Regions from separate parts of the Homo sapiens genome. Here region 2 is linked to region 1. The links come from fine-mapping of genetic effects on gene expression. Tissue or cell type: whole blood. Region 1 holds a variant in brackets; the other region holds the start of a gene. All regions are shown on one strand. Distances are between the middles of the regions.

What was found. PIP is the estimated chance that this variant, and not a neighbour inherited with it, causes the effect.
Region 2: it holds the start of CC2D2A, and the variant in region 1 is fine-mapped to the expression of CC2D2A in whole blood (TOPMed, PIP above 0.99).

What each region holds. Positions count from the first base shown.
Region 1 is chr4:15,510,394-15,518,580 of GRCh38, reverse strand. CC2D2A (coiled-coil and C2 domain containing 2A) reads right to left here. Exons shown (of 37, transcript NM_001378615.1): 8 at 7,158-7,334; 9 at 3,712-3,874; 10 at 2,577-2,713; 11 at 1,825-1,956. LOC124900672 (a long non-coding RNA gene) reads left to right here and starts at 3,874. Exons shown (of 2, transcript XR_007058062.1): 1 at 3,874-4,125. The variant T/C (reference allele first, on the strand shown) is at 3,830.
Region 2 is chr4:15,465,632-15,473,818 of GRCh38, reverse strand. CC2D2A (coiled-coil and C2 domain containing 2A) reads right to left here and starts at 3,937. Exons shown (of 37, transcript NM_001378615.1): 1 at 3,762-3,937.

The sequences.
Region 1 (8,187 bases):
AGGGAAATGTGCGGTTGGAGCTCCCACACTGAGTTCCTACTGGGGCACTGCCTAGTGGAGCTATAAGAAGAGGGCCACTGTCCTCCAGACCCCAGAATAGTAGATCCACTGACAGCTTGCACTGTGTACCTGGAAAAGCTGCAGACACTCAACACCAGCTCATGAAAGCAGCCAGGAGGGAGGCTGTACCCTGCAAAGCCACAGAGGCGAAGCTGCCCAAGACCATGGGAACCTAACTCTTGCATCAGCATGACCGGAATGCGAGACATGTTTACCCAATACCTATACCTCCATTGTATCTAGGAAGTAACTAACTTGCTTTTGATTTTACAGACTCATAGGCAGAAGGGACTTGCTTTGTCTCAGATGGGATGTTAGACTATGGACTTTTGAGTTGATGCTGAAATGAGTTAAAACTTTGGGGGAGTTGTTGGGAAGGCAATGATTGGTTTTGAAATGTGAGGACAGATTTGGGAGGGGCCAGGGGTGAAATGATATGGTTTGGCTGTGTTCCTACCCAAATCTCATCTTGAATTGTAACTCCCACAATTCCCAGGTTTCATGGGAGGAACCGGGTGGGAGGTGATTGAATTATGGGGGTGGGTCTTTCCTGCACTGTTCTCATGATAGTGAATGAGTTTCACAAGATCTGATGGTTTTATAAACGGGAGTTTCCCTGCACAAGCTCTCTTTTTGCCTGCTGCCATCCATGTAAGACGTGACTTGCTCCTCCTTGCCTTTTGCCATGATTGTGAGGTCTTCCCAGCCATGTAGAACTGTAAGTCCATTAAACCTCTTTTTTTTGTAAATTGCCCAGTCTTGGGTATGCCTTTATCAGCAGCGTGATAACAGATTAATACACCCAGGAAAGCAAGAGCAATGCAATTAAATATGAGGGCAGGGAACTGTAATGATAGCCAGCAGTTACTAGGTCTGTTTTAGACACTTATGTGGATTACCTCATTCAATTTACACAGCAAGCCTGGGAGGCAGACACTGCTATCGTGCCTGCCTTACAGATGAAGACATTGAGGCATGAGAGACTAATGGCCAAGTTCACCCAGTGAATGGTAGAGCAAGGGCTGGAATTAGGCAGCTTGTTACCAGACTTAGGAAAATACAATATAAAGGATTTGCAAGGATAGAAACTCTCCGGTTATATAATAAAGAGACAACAAATGGGAAGTGGTCCTGCAGCAAATGTGAGATAACAAGAGAAAAGAGAGGGCAAAAGAAGAAAAATAAGTGTAGCTAACCTGGATGTGTAAAAAAAGATGCAGACTCAGTCATTCCTAGCTAGGAAACTCACTCCTTGTTTAAGAAGGGATGCATTGGGCTGGGCGCGGTGGCTCACACCTGTAATCCCAGCACTTTGGGAGGCTGAGGTGGGCGGATCACGAGGTCAGGAGATCGAGACCATCCTGGCTAACACGGTGAAACCCCATCTCTACTAAAAATACAAAAAATTAGCCGGGCGAGGTGGCGGGCACCTGTAGTCCCAGCTACTCAAAAGGCTGAGGCAGGAGAATGGCGTGAACCCGGGAGGCGGAGCCTGCAGTGAGCCGAGATCGCGCCACTGCACTCCAACCTGGGCGACAGCGAGACTCCGTCTCAAAAAAAAAAAAAAAAAAAAAAAGAAGGGATGCATTGAGTATAATTAGACTTACTCTTACATAATATGCCTGATGTTTGTTCTTTATGTGTAAGATAGTGAATTATTTAAAAAATTAAAGTAGAATGTTATAAATATAGCACCCCAAGCTATTCAGAAAGCAAAGCACTTTCAATTTCATTTAATAAAAGTGGAGAGAGGGGAGTGTCTACCTTTTTATACAGTGTTTCAAGCTCTGCCTTAATGCTCTGCTCCTGTGTTAGTACTGGCGGCCTTGAAGGAAATGGCTTGATGGGGTTTGGCAGAGCTAGGATCCTGCCGTCATCTCCAAACCATCTTCTTTCCTGTAGATGAAGCAGAGGGAATGGCAACATTTTCTTCTAATCGAACAGAAAATGGTTCACAACACAAACAACATTTCTTGAAAATTCTGTGTCAACATATATATTTCATGTACTTCCTCCCCCAACAGAACTGTAAAAGTTCTGTTTCCATTAGAAATCAAGTCTTCACTAACACTTCTCACAATTGATTTAAAATATACACCCTGGCTTCCTAAAAAGTATTTTAAAGAGCTTAAATGAGTGCTTAAGAAAAATTTATCTTCTATTAATTAAACATTTAAGAAAAAAAAACACAGAATAAAAACTCAAAAGTGAAACTATTCTACCTATGGATAATTTAAAAATTCTGTCAAGTAGGAAAATGTTGCCAGGATCTGGTTTAGCAGGAAAAGCCCAGATCTAGCTAGCAAAGATGGGTTTTGAGCAGTTGAGAAGTTATGTTATTTGAGGATCAATAAATGTACTGAGAGAGAAAGTTAAAAAAAAAAAAATGAACCACTTTCTGTGGATAACCTCAAGAGGAAATGAGTACAGTGGATGCAATGACTGCCCTGTTAGGAAAATAAAAGCTATGTCTAGTGTGCCCAGGCTACACCTGAGAGCAGAGGGTGCACACTTACGGGGTCCTGCATCAGCAATCTGTTCTCCATGATGTTCTGATTGGTGCGTGCCACCTCTGGTCTTACCCCGGTGTAAAGGCCTTCATCTTCCAGGAACCTGGGCTGTACATTCTCAGGAAGCTTTTTATATGTAGGGACTAGATCGTTTATAAATAAATAAAATAAACATTAGGGCCAATCTAAATATCTCAAACTGCAGTTTGGTGAATTAATCACCAGAGATTTCATTTATGTTCTTAGAAAATGCAAATTTTCCAAATTAATTTTTAAAAGCAGAACCAAGGAAAAGATGAATGTGCTCACTTGTAGCAGTATGTTGTAGAATCAGGTATTTAAAGAAAACGCCTAAAAATTTAATATGTAACTCATCAGTGTGGCATACTGAGAAGAAGGTAGTATTCAAATCATAGGATGAGAGACAAGTTTTAGTTCTATTACTCTTCAGCTGGGTGAATTAGGGCCAGGCACTTCTTTGAACTCTCTCCTCCTGTACAAAAGAGATACTAATCTACTTAACTGGGCTTCTGGGAGAATTAAATGAGGTAAAGTATGAGGACGTGCTTTGTAAATGAACAAGTTTATTTGATTGAACGTGATCATTACCTCATTTATTCATTCACGGCTTTATTCATTCCTAGAACACATCTTTACTGAGAGCCTCCTTGTGCCAGGCACAGATGAGACTCTGGGAATCCAGGCCAGGCCCCTGCTGCCTTGGAGCTTGAATCATAGTGGGAGTGATAGGCAGCAACAGGAAGCAAAGGTCTCTACAAGATCACGCCATAGAGTAGTAAGAAAATACACAGGAGATGGTGACTTAGGGAAGGTTGGGGATAAACTTAAGAAGAAAGAAAGGCTGTTCTCATAAACTCTAAGCCCCTGTAATGGATCACTGATTTGATAAAGGGTTCCCACAGTACTCTGGTATATCTTCCATTAGTCTATCAATAAGTGTTTGTTGAATGGATATTTTTCCATGTTGTGTTTTTTTTGTTTGTTTGAAGATATTTCTTGATTGTTAGATTAGAAACTGGAATCAGTTCTGGAGATGAGGCATCCTTATACACTAGCCATATTTCATGACAAGGTAAGTGACGATGTCTAAGCTGAACAAGAAAATAAAAAGAGCAAGTACCTGTCTGCCTACTGGGTATGAAGAGCATTTCTCTTTCCATCTGCAGCCGATCATGGATGCTTTCATAATCTGCAGGTCTGACTGCTACAAAATCGTCAGCCACGTGATCTAAGCCCAA[T/C]AGGAAGTCCTCGGCATCATCACCATTAAGCAGTTCTTCCTCATCCTGCATAATGTTAAAAAGTAACAAGAAAAAATCATGCTAAGATTCTTAGTTAGAAAAATAATTCACAATACCAAACTCATGAAACTTAACATTTCCTACAACTTTATCTTTTCCTTTTTTTAAAAAAGTGAAAGCATAGAACTATATAACCTTTCATATTTAACAAGTGGGTTTTTAAAAAAATTGTTTTGCAGTATTCTGCACACCTGGAAGATGTCAAAATCAGAGATGGCTGTTTCAGAAGAGAAGTGGTAAGCAAAACAATCAAAATCCCAACAAATCTGGCCTCCTATGAGACTGCTTGCTTCTTGCCATTTATGTAAAGAATTGGGCTCATAATTTATGTAGCAGTTTAACCTTCCACCTGGCACTAAACCAAGGGAAAAGGCACCAAGTGTATAGGTGCACAGTCCACACACCCTGTTCAGACTGCCTGGGTTTAAATCCCAGCTTCACCATATACTGCCTGAGGAACTTGAAACAGCTTATTTAACCTTCTGATCCTCAGTTTCCTCACTTATAAGATAGTTATAGTAATGGAGTTTACCTCTAAGCACTTTGTGGGGATAAAATTAAATGATACACTTAAAAATTCAAAGCAAAGAGGCTATAATCACAAATGTTAGCTGACATATATTGATTTTGTTTGGATATTTTCTAAACGTCTTCTCTTCCTTCCTCTTCTTTTTCTTTCTCCTTCTCCTTCTTTTAAAAATTTAAACCTGGTGTCCATTTATGAGCAACATCTTTTAAAATCCTGTGGAGACTTTCAGGTAGCTAAAGACAATGATGGCAGTCTAGCTACCTGCCTCTTAAGATTTCCTCCCCAAGTACACAAAAGAATAAGAAGGAAAAAGGGAATCTATGTAGAAACCATGCTTTTAACTTAACTTGAAGACAGAGAATGCCAAAACATCAAACAAGTGAAAAGAGAAAGATCACCAGATGGCAGTGTGTAATCTTCCTTCTCCTGCCCCACCTCTGCTTCGTGGTGAGCAAAATCACCCAGAGAAAAACTGCAGAGAAGACAGAAAAGGGGAGCTAGCGAAAGGGGCTACAGAGGATCTAAAACTTTGTTCAAAAAGGCTAAATGAACCTTGAAGACGAAAATACTTTAAAAGTGTCTGGGCAGAGCAGAGCATGGACTATAGGGAAGGGCTTCCAAATGTGTGTGATTTAAAAGAGCAGTTTTAGGAACAGAGCTTCTGGGGCAGTGAATAGGCAAAAGGAAGGGAGAAGTGGCCTTTGGAGGAAAGTGCCATAATTTCAGAAGATATTCGCAATTGGAGACTTCTATCTTCAACAGGTGAAGCCCAATTCTCCTCCATTTGAGAGTGCACTACGTCTCGTGACTTGCTTCTCCTGAGTAGAATATGGCAGAAGTGACAGTATGTGGCTCCTGAGACTAGGTCATAAAAGGAACTGTGGCTTCTTTTTTGGGTTCTCCCCTAGATCACTTGCTTTTGGGAAGTTAGCTGTCATGTCAGGAGGACACTCAAGCAATGTTGAATGGCCTGAATGCTGATTTGTAGAATGATTGTTATAGAATAAGCTAAAATATTCCCAAGCTTCTGTAGATCTAGGTAAAAAAAGTACATTTCCGGGAGGCATTTTTCAAGGGAGGAGATTGTAAGTGAAGCACAGAAGTATGCCAATTATGTGAATACTAGAATATCCTAGTGTGTTTTCCTTATTTTTAATGTGGTAAAATATATATAACATGAAGTCCACCATTTTAACCTTTTTTTTTTTTTTGAGACAGAGTCTTGCTTTGTCATCTAGGCTGGAGTGCAATAGCGCAATCTCGGCTCACTGCAACGTCTGCCTCTCGTGTTCAAGTAATACTCCTGCCTCAGCCTCCTGAGTAGCTGGATTACAGGTGCCTGCCACCACACCCAGCTAATTTTTGTAATTTTAGTAGAGACAGGGTTTCACCACGTTGGCCAAGCCTGGTCGTGAACTCCTGACCTTAGGTGATCCGCCCTCCTCGGCCTCCCAAAGCTGGGATTACAGGCCACCGCACCCGGCCCATTTTAACCATTTTTAGGTGAACAGTTCAGTGGCATTAAGTAAATTCATATTGTGATTCTACCCTTACCACCATCCATCCATCTTCCCAGACTGAAATTCTATACCCATTAAACATTCCCTCCTTCCTCTAACCTCTGACAACCACCATTCTACTTTCTGTCTCTATGATTTTGATGATACAATGTAGCTCATATAAGTGAAATCACACAATATTTATTCTTTTGTGACTGGCTTATTTTTCTTAGTGTAATGTCTTCAAGGTATATCTATGTTGTGGCATGTGTCAGAATTTCCATGCTTTCTGCGGTTGTATAATATTCCATTGTATATTTATGTTTATCCATTTATCTTCCGATGAACACTTGGGTTGCTTCTACCTTTTGGCTTTTGTGAATAATGCTGCTATGAACATCGGTGCACAAGTATATGTTCAAATTCTTGTCTTCAGTGTTTTTGGATATATACACAGAGTGGAATTGAATTGCTGGATCATATTGTAAATCTGTGGTTAACTTTTGAAGGACCACCATACTGTTTTTCACAGCAGCTGCACTGTTTTACATGGCTACAAGCAACGCACCAAAGTCCAATTTCTCCATATCCTCTATAACACTTATTTTTTGATAAGCGCCATTCTAATGGATGTGCAGGGGTATCTCATTGTGGGTTTGATTTGCATTTCCCTTATGATGATTGGTGTTAAGAATCTTTTTATGGGCTTATTGTCTATTTGTATGTCTTCTTTGAAGAAATGTCTATTCAATACCTTTGCCCATTTTTAAATGGCTTATTCTCCTTTTATCTCACACATACCACCCACAGTTGCAGAATTTGAGTTGTAGCCTGGGTGTGGTGTTTGGGCACAAAATGCTGCTTACTTTGTAAGGTTGTGGTAAGAGAGAGACCAAGATTTCATTTGCCTTGCAGAGGAACATATTTTGCACATGGAATAAATACTAATCATTACGTGGAGTCTAGCAAGAAAAACCCTCAAGCCACATTATTTAATTCTTTTTTCCACAAAAGAAAAATAAACAGGTTTAATCAAGGTTCTTCCTACCACATTGTAGGGTCTAACCCAGAGCTACAGGGAGCCATGTGAATTCAGTACTTGGGATTTCAACTCAGACGTGGAGTGTCATTCTCCTGGTGGTGGCAGGTTTCTCCTCAGCCACTTTCTTTCTTGCAGGGACATCAGCTTTTTCCTCCTAGCCCTCCACCCACACCTCATTACCATCCTGATATTAAATACCATTTCCTTTCCTCCTCCTTGTGCAGGTGGTTCTTCTTCTTCCCCTTCCTCCTCCTCTTGATTAGTTCCCGCTCTATGTCTTGCTTTTGGTTTTTCCTCTGATCCTTCTGGTTCGGGATCAAAGTTGAAAGTAAAGAAGTTATAGGCCTCTTCTGCAGAAGGGAAGCCAGGTGGAACCTAACGAAAAGCAAGGAGCAATCGCAATTTCCCATTTATAAGCTGTAATGCGCTCTGCACAATTAACTGACAGCTGGCTTAATGCTAATGAGATCAGGCATATTCCAGGCCTCCGAAGCATATTGTCTTAGTTAAAGGTGTGAGACTACTGGTAATAAACTTTAATATCTGCCACAGGCAGTTGGAGGCCTCCTTTAATAGTAACTCTAATTAGTGACTTTAAAAAACCCCAGCAATTATTTACATTCCAACAAGTAAATACATATTTATAGCAGTAAACACTTTAGATAAGATTATTAAAATGACAAACAGTGGATTTATTGTTTTATTGGCCAATGCTGAGATAGTTTTGTTGTATTATGAGAAATATAGAATTTTTAAACAAATGACCTTTTTTTGTTGTTTCTCTTTTGGAGTTAGTACTCTCCTTTTTTCCTATAATGAAAGCCGGGGCAACTTCAGAGCTGAACAAACTGTCTTATCACCAACATTTCCTGTCTTTCCATGCACTCCCTCATCCTCAAGTCAGGCAATATTCTGATCTCTCCAGTTAGTATGAAAGTTGGAATCACTTCTCATACTTTTTTCTTGCAAACTGCATGGCAACAGGAGTCAGGTTATATATGTAGTCATTTATTTATTTTTAATTAAGAGATGAGGTCTCACTCTGTCACCCAGGCTGGAATGCAGTGGCACAATCATGGCTCACTGCAGCTTCGACCTCATGGGCTCAAGTGATCCTCCCATCTCAGCCTCCCAGGTAGCTTGGACCACAGGTGTGTGCCACCATGTCTGGCTAATTTTTGTATTTTTTGTAGAGATGGGGTTTCGCCATGTTGTCCAGGCTGGTCTT
Region 2 (8,187 bases), 45 kb after region 1:
TGAATCCATCAGAAATCCTGCCAGTTTTGGCTTCAGATTATTTTCAGGATCTAATCACTTCTAAACATTTCCACTGTTATCACCATGGTCAAACACCATCTTCTCTCTTGAAATCTACTGCAAGAAACTCCTAATTTCTCAGCTTGCCACATTGCTGGGCTACCATATTCTCTGCATTGAAGCCAGTGCAAATTGATGAAAATTTGAGTGACATAATCACATTGCTTCACTCAAAATCCTCCAATGATTTCCCTTTGTCAACAGAGTAAAACCCAAAGTTTTTTCCAAGGCCTACAAGCCCTGTGTGATTTGCACTTGAATCCTGTTGCCTCAGGACCTTTGTAGCTGCGGTTCCTGCTACCTAGTTCTCCTTTTTCCCAAGATATCTGCATGGCTCTTGCTGTTTCACTTTCTTCAGGTCTCAGCTGAAATTTTATTATCAGAGAGCTCTTCTCTGACCATTCGTAATACAATGATCTCCTCCCAACACCCTCCTGGAATTCCCTAACTACCTTACAATGATTTTTTCACAGTACTTATTACCACTCAACATACATACTTACTTGTTAATGTCAGCCCATATCCATTAGAATATAGCTGCAAGAGGGCAGAAACATTATTTTGTTTATTGTTTACCCCCAGAGACTAGGATTATGGGACATCATGGACATTCAATATATACTTGTCGAATGAATGATTAAGTCACTGACTTATTGGCTGTGGTTCCATAGCCACATTCTGGGACTATTTAAAGCTCCACTGTTTCTTCTAGGCTGCTGTGAGGATTAAATGAGAAAACACATGGAGAAACAACAGGCATATGGCTGACAAATCATAAGCCCTTTCTAATATCCTTGGAACCCAAATCTTAACTGGGACTTGGTCAGGTCATTTAAGCAGCTCATCTGAGATCAAGGTTTCACTGACCCTACAGGGGAATTAGCATGTTAAAGGGAAATAAAGCATCTGAAATTCTATTGTCTTCTCTACAAACCTCATCACAGGGTACAAAAAATAGAGGAAGGAAAATGTAAAAGCAGCTAAGAAAATAGAGAGGCAAGGAGATAACCTAGAGTGAATGAGGGGGCAGATAATAAAGATGAAATGCAAAAGTACATGAGAGCTCTCTAATGAACAACTCTGGTCATTGCAAACTGAAAAAAAAAAAAAACCTGTGAAACATTTTAGTAACTAAAAAAAGTTCTCTATAAGTTAATAAATGCTTTATATGGAAGAAAAAAATAGAAGTAGAAAATGAAAAATGTAATGGGATTTTCTTTTTTCCTCATTCTTTCCTGATCATTTCCTTTAAATGAGTTTCTAAGGAAATCAAATGACACCGAAATTTATTTTTTATATGAACACTGTTGCTAAGAAAAGATAAATCAATACTGCCTGGTTTTAATATGCAGTTTGCCATCATCTTATGCACTGGTACTTGTTAATATATTCCTACTGGCAACATCAAAATAGCTATGATTTACTGCACACTTATTTTGTGCTAACTATAGACATGTTCTCTTTAGTCCTCACAATAACATGTCTGGCTTAGTAGTATGTGCCCCAATTTGCGTATGAGTAAACTGAGGCTCTGACAATTTACATGATTTTTCCAAAGTTATAATTATTAAATGTCACATTCAGAACTTGATCCCAAGACTCTGTGATTCCTGAGTCCTCCCTCACTCCACTCTACCCCTCCATCTCACCATTTATTCTTGCTTTTGCAATGGCATCAATAATTATTCTGTGCTTTCCAGAATAGTGGGCTATTCTGGAAATATTTACAGTTGAAAGCTGTGAAGCATTGCACTGGTGAGAAAAGGCTTAGGCTACATTAAGCCAATGATTTATTTTACTCAGTGCAGAAAACCAGATATATTTTTTCAAGGAAAGTACTGACACCTTCATCTGAATAAATGGACTATTCCTAAGAGTCATCAGTGGGTCAGAGCCATACCTGGAGGTTGAGATACAACGCATCTCAACTCCATATTGGTTGCTTAAAAAATCATACAATATATATGCCCTACTCCAGGATGGCAAAAACATGGGTTTATAGGAAGAGTGGTCCACATATTTCTTTGCCAAGGAATATGTGGACCTGAGTTCCAACTTCAGCTTTATTTATTAGCTGTGTGATCTTGGAACAATGCCCTCCCTTCTCTGAGACACGTTTTTTTTTTTTTTGTCTGCAACATTGCAATCATACTTCCTACCTTGAAGGATGATTAATTTATAAGGGCTAAATGATGAAATGTGTGTAGTAAAATGCCTAGCACAGGCTGGGCTCTCAATATTGGTAGGTTTTGTTACTAAGAAAAAGTGATTGTGGGGAGGGAAAGTGGAAAAAAGGAATGAGGAGGGAAAAGAGCTTGGGGGATAGAAGAGGAGTCATGAGAAAGACCTTAGGTGATGTTCAAGCCCACCCACCTTCAGCTCCAATCTTCAACCCCCAGCTACCATAACTCATGTTTCATGTCTCCCTCCCTTCAGCCAGGCCCAGGGCAGTTGCCTTGCTGTTTCCATTTATGGTGCTTCTGAAACCTCCTGCACTTCTACCCATGAGTATTTTCTTCCTCACACCCTGAGAACATTTTTCTGTTCCCTCCTGGAGCTTGGACACCTGGGGAGGTGCCACATACATTGTTTTGGAATACATTATCTTATTCTACAAGTTATTCCAGCTGCAGTTTCCCTTAGCATAAGGTTAGTGACCAATAGCTTTATAGAATCATTTAATCAGCTCGATATAATGTACACTGGCCTTGAAGAGTACACATGAGTACCATATTTGAGCTGTGTTACGTGATATATGACCAGTGCATTTACATGATGTGCTAAGTACTGGAAGCCCCTCCCTGGATGTCATCCCACTGTCCTCTCAGTGTTTTTATAAATCTCTTATGGCACTTAGCTCATTGTACTCTTATCATGTGTTTATAGGTCTGTTTTCCCAGCAAATTCTGAGCTTCTGACCTAGTCTAATTTATGTTTGCACACTCTAAACTTAAATTCATTGCCTGGTGCATTGTTGATGCTCCATAAATGTTTGAATGAATGACTCTATAAGTGAGCTCTAGGATATATATATATATATATATATATATATATATATATATATATATAGAGAGAGAGAGAGAGAGAGAGAGAGAGAGAGAGAGAGAGATTTCATGCTGGTGCTGAATTTATTTGCAGAAAAGGTTATATGAAAATGCAGTAGCAAACATATTTCTTATTTGACTTTATTAGCTTTTCATACCACCTCTTTGCAATGAAGGGAAACAAACAATCAGCTTAAGTTGTAGCCAGTACATTTTCTTGAAGTCTTTGGAAAGCACAGCAACTCTTAGCACTGTGGTTAGTAGCCCTTTCTCTGTCTCATACCAAGAAAAGTGTATTTTGCAGTAATTAGTGCTTCTCCCCTTAAGCCAGTTTGAACTAAAAGGCCCATAAATGCAACACGCAGCTAATGTTTCACAGAGCTTTGGTCAGAGAGCATTTTCACTCAGGACTTGTGATGAACTGGACTTACATTTCCTGCAAACCAGATACCAGATAGCAGCTCAAATCAAAGCTGCCAAGTAATGGTCTATGTTCCCATTTCAGAAAGTAAAAACATAAATAACGATGAGAGCCCCTAAATTTACAATTCATTAAATCCAGTCTCACGGTATCCTGGAGAGGCTGAACTTCAAGCCGGGTAACTGAAAACAGGAAATCACTGTTGCAGCCTAAAGTCCGGTTAGGGACTGATTTACCTTAAGAAACTTTACAAAAGGCACTTTGCAGATTCTGCATTCTAGGATGGAAGTGGAGAGAGACGGTGCTGTTGAATCTTTTAAAAGGGTCCGGAGGGAAAGGCTGAGTGTTGGAGATGCCCCTGGGCTCCTCCCTGGGAAGCTGCAGCCATGTCTTGGAGCAAAAACACCAGCTTAGCAACCCGTTCCTAAGGAAGGTCACTCGGTAGCTTTTTTTTTTTTCCTTTAAAGTGACAGGCTACTTCCAGTAGTGGAGTACAAGCATGCTGGGTAAGCAGAGACGCACAGCCTGCAGTAGAAGGACGGAGAGAAATCAACATGAGCAGCACTGGAAATTAGGTCAAGCCTTAAGAGCTGCCCCTCCCTCATGTCATCCGGTCGTCTTGCATTTCCAATGAAGAACAGGCTCAGAGGTGGGGGGATTTAGAATCTTAAAAGGTCGTCATTACATGGTGAAGCTGTCTAACGTGGCAGCAGCAAAAGCTCTGTGGAGGTGCTGCAGAGTACCAACAAATGTTGCACTTGAGTGTTTTCCAGTTAAAAGTGGAAGGTTGAACGCACAAGTTTAATCTTTGCCTATTCTCTGAATCCCACTGCAATTCCTGAAAACGGATATAAATGTTATGGCTCAAAAAAGTTGGAAAAAAAAAAAGAGGGAGAGGTAGGAGGCAAAGTAGCTGGAAGAGTAATAGAATGAATGGAGCCAAGGAAACACACTCCAATAGACTAGTGTGTATGTGCACATGTGTTTGTGTGTATTTGTGTCTGTGTGTATGGTGTGTGTATGTTTGTGTGTATGTGTATTGACTGTATCTTCTTATTTTCTGTATTCTTGATGCTCTGGCATTTGGAGCCTTGATCCTGGAGAAACTGATTCTCCTATGTTAGCTAATTTCTAGAGATAGCAAATGATTCCCCTGAAATATGCAAAGTCTCCTTTGATATACAAGCCAACCAATCCAGAGCCCACACAACCATCTCCATTATCAAACTCTCACACACTAAGCCAATATTCCTCCTGTCCTAAGTCACCCCAGGTCCAGATACCAGACCACTATAGCCCAGAGAACACCACGATTATTCAAGCTATCCACTCCTAAATTTATGCAGCACCCTACCCTGCTTCACCTATTCCTTCCTGGGAAAACCCTAGTAAAGGCTCTGTGCTGTACTCTGCTGTCTCCGTTCTGCCTTCTGACCAACATTGGTTCTTCCCTATGTGGTCCTGTGTGGCATGCCATGTTCTATGATTTGAATGTGTCTTCCCAAAAGCATGTATTGGAAACTTAATCCCTAACACAATGGTGTCGGGAGGTGGCACCTAATGAGAGGCAATTAGGCTGTAGGGCTCTGCCCTCATAAATGCATTAATGCCATTATTGCAGGAGTGGATTCCTTATAAAAGAATGAATTTGGCCTCGTTTTCTCTCTTTCTCTTTCTTGCTCTCATGTTTTCTTGCCTTGCACCATAGGATGGTGCAGCAAGAAGACCCTTGCAGGATGCCAGCCCCTTGATCTTGGACTTCCCAGCCACCAGAACTGTGAAAAATAAATTTCTGTTCATTATAAATTGCCCAGTCTGTGTATTCTGTTACAACAACAGAAAACGAACCAAGACACCATGCTTCTTGTTTCTAGGGATCTGTTAAGTATAAACTTCTTCTTTTGTGCCAATCATGTTTGTGTCTGTGTGTCTTACCATACCTAATTAAAACAAATCCAGAGTACATTTTTTGACACAGCCTGCATGCATGTGTATGTGTCAATGTATTTGTGTTTGTGTCTCTGTACGTGTATGTATGTGTGTGTGTGTCTGTGTATGATGGGGTGTGCACGTAGGCATGAATATGAGGAAATGAGCTGATTTACTGTGCCAGGATTTGGGGCAGCAGTGTTATAGCTGAATTGTGTTCTCTCTCATCCCCAAAGATGCTGAAGTCCTAACCTCAGTATCTCAGAATGGGACCTTATTTGGAGATAGGGTATTTACAGAGGTAATCACATTAAAATGAAGTCATTAGAGTGAGATCTAATCCAAGATGATTGCGTCCTTACAAAAGGGGAAATTTGGATTCAGAGACAGACAAAATAGAAGAAAGGCAACGTGAAGACATGGGGAGAGCACCATCTCCAAGCCAGGGAACACTCAAGGCTATCAGCAGCCAGGAGAGAGGCCTGGAACAGACTGTCTCTTGAAGCTTCACAAAGAATCAACCCTGCCACACCTTGATTTCAAATTTCTAGTCTCCTGAATTGTTAGAAAATTTCTGCTGTTTAAGCCACTCAGTGTGTGGTACTTTGTTACAACAGCATCAGGAAACTAATACAACCATAGACTAAGGAAGGTGGGGAGAGATACGGGGCTAAAAATGCAGGAAGATTTGAAAGTCTGTATATTAAGGGATTGATCCTCAGGATCCTTTTTCTTGGCAGCCTGAAAAATGCCCATTCCTCAGGCATAATTTCCGTCCTCCACATCTGCCTCATCTGCTGCTGCCCAAAGGAGACTGGCGGTTTCTTTTCTAGGGAAGTTAAACCAGAGACTCTCTGGTCTCAAGTTCCCAGGTACTGCAGCAAGTGAGTGTGTCTCAGGATTGAAAACTGTATATGAAATGAAGATGTTGCAGGGCCCTTTCTGAACCTTTCTCAAGAACTTAGACAATCAAGAACATGCCATTGGCTCCCCCATCCTACCTCTACCTGCACAAAACTGGAGAAAGTAGAAAATTATTTTCTGGAAAAACTGAATGATTATAAAGCACAGACCCTACATACTGACATTTCTGGATCCTCCAATGACAAAGCTAGCATATTGCCCTTACAGAAAAGCATTACAAAAAACATTAAAGGATCTCAGGCTAGGAAATTTAATGCTTGTAGTTATAAAAAGAGAGAACCATGAAAATGGAAAAGTATAATTTACCAAAGGAGTAATACAAGAACAACTGTATGAAATAATGTATTTTCCAATTGAAGGGGACAATCTACTATCTCGTGCTGGTAAAAGAAGACAATAAGAAAACTTGTCTGTCTTGGCTTGTATTCTGCATGTGGTGAGAAAAATATGAAGAATTTACAACCATTGGTTTGCACCATGCAGTTTGTCTTATTTATGCTCCTTATATATTTTAGGAGGCCCCTAAGTGATAACTTTTAAAAAGTGGCCTCTGTCTACTGTATCCCCGTGGGGTGCCAGGCAGAAGTTATTACAAAACTTTTCTGGAGGAACACACCTTCAATTGGACAATTCAGGATGTCCACAAATAAACACAGAGGAAGATGAGCTCACAACCCAAAATTAGACAACAGAAGAGAAACACTCAAGAGTCCACAGACAAACCAGAGGACACTATTAGATACTCAAGAGTTTCTTGCAATACAATAATCAGATGGAGAGTGGAAAAATAACAATGACCAAATATTCAAGAAGATACAAGGAGGATTTGAAAATATGAAAGAAGAGTGAGACACTATCAAAAAGATCAGACAAATTCAAAAAGTAACCAGATAGAACTTTTAGAAATAAATAATACAGTCACAAATTTAGATAAAAGTCAAAGAATGTGCTAAACTGTAGATGAGAGAGCTGAAGAGATGCAAAAGATAGGTTTAAAAAATTGAAATGTGGCACAGAGATATTGAAAATAGGAAAGAGTAGGTAAAAGATACAGGGAGAAATTGATGAGGTCCACCATATCCAGTACAGTACCAGAAGGAGAGGAGAGAGAAAGAAGTTGAATGCTCTGTCTTACAACTGAGGGATCTCGGTCAACTTTCTTAACCTTTCTAGGTTTCAGTTTCCTTCTCTGTAGGAAACTGAGGTTTAATAATAGTAACTATTCCAGAGAGAGTTGTTAGGAAATTTGTTAAGTTAATAATTGTGAAGCACTTAGGACAGTCCTGGCACATAGTAAATGTTGCAAGGTTTATTAAGTGAAGAAAAATATGAATGTTTACCGTAAGAGATTATCTACTTGAAATGGTCAGCTGCCATGAGAGGAAGGACTTGTTCACCACTCTTTTGCTAATTAACCGTCTGATTATTACCTCCCTGATATTTTAAAAGTCTCATGGTCTGCCAACAGAGCTAGCTGGGCACGTCCTCTTTGATCTTTAATACTGAACTAATTCATAAGAATCATACAACTTCTTAAGTTCCAAAAATATTAAAAAGTATCATTGCAAAACACCATTACTTGCAAAAGTTCTTATGTAAGCAAAATAAATGAATCTAGCAAATTTATTTTAAATCATAACACAAAAATCTCATTCTTTTGGTTAAGTGTTCCTAGTTGGCTAAAGAGTTTTTCATCAAGAATAAATGTTGAATCACATTATCACAAGCTTTTTTCTACATCTTTTGAGATAATTAAATATTATTTTTATTCTTTCATCTATTAGTGTAGAGAATTGCATTATCAGGCAT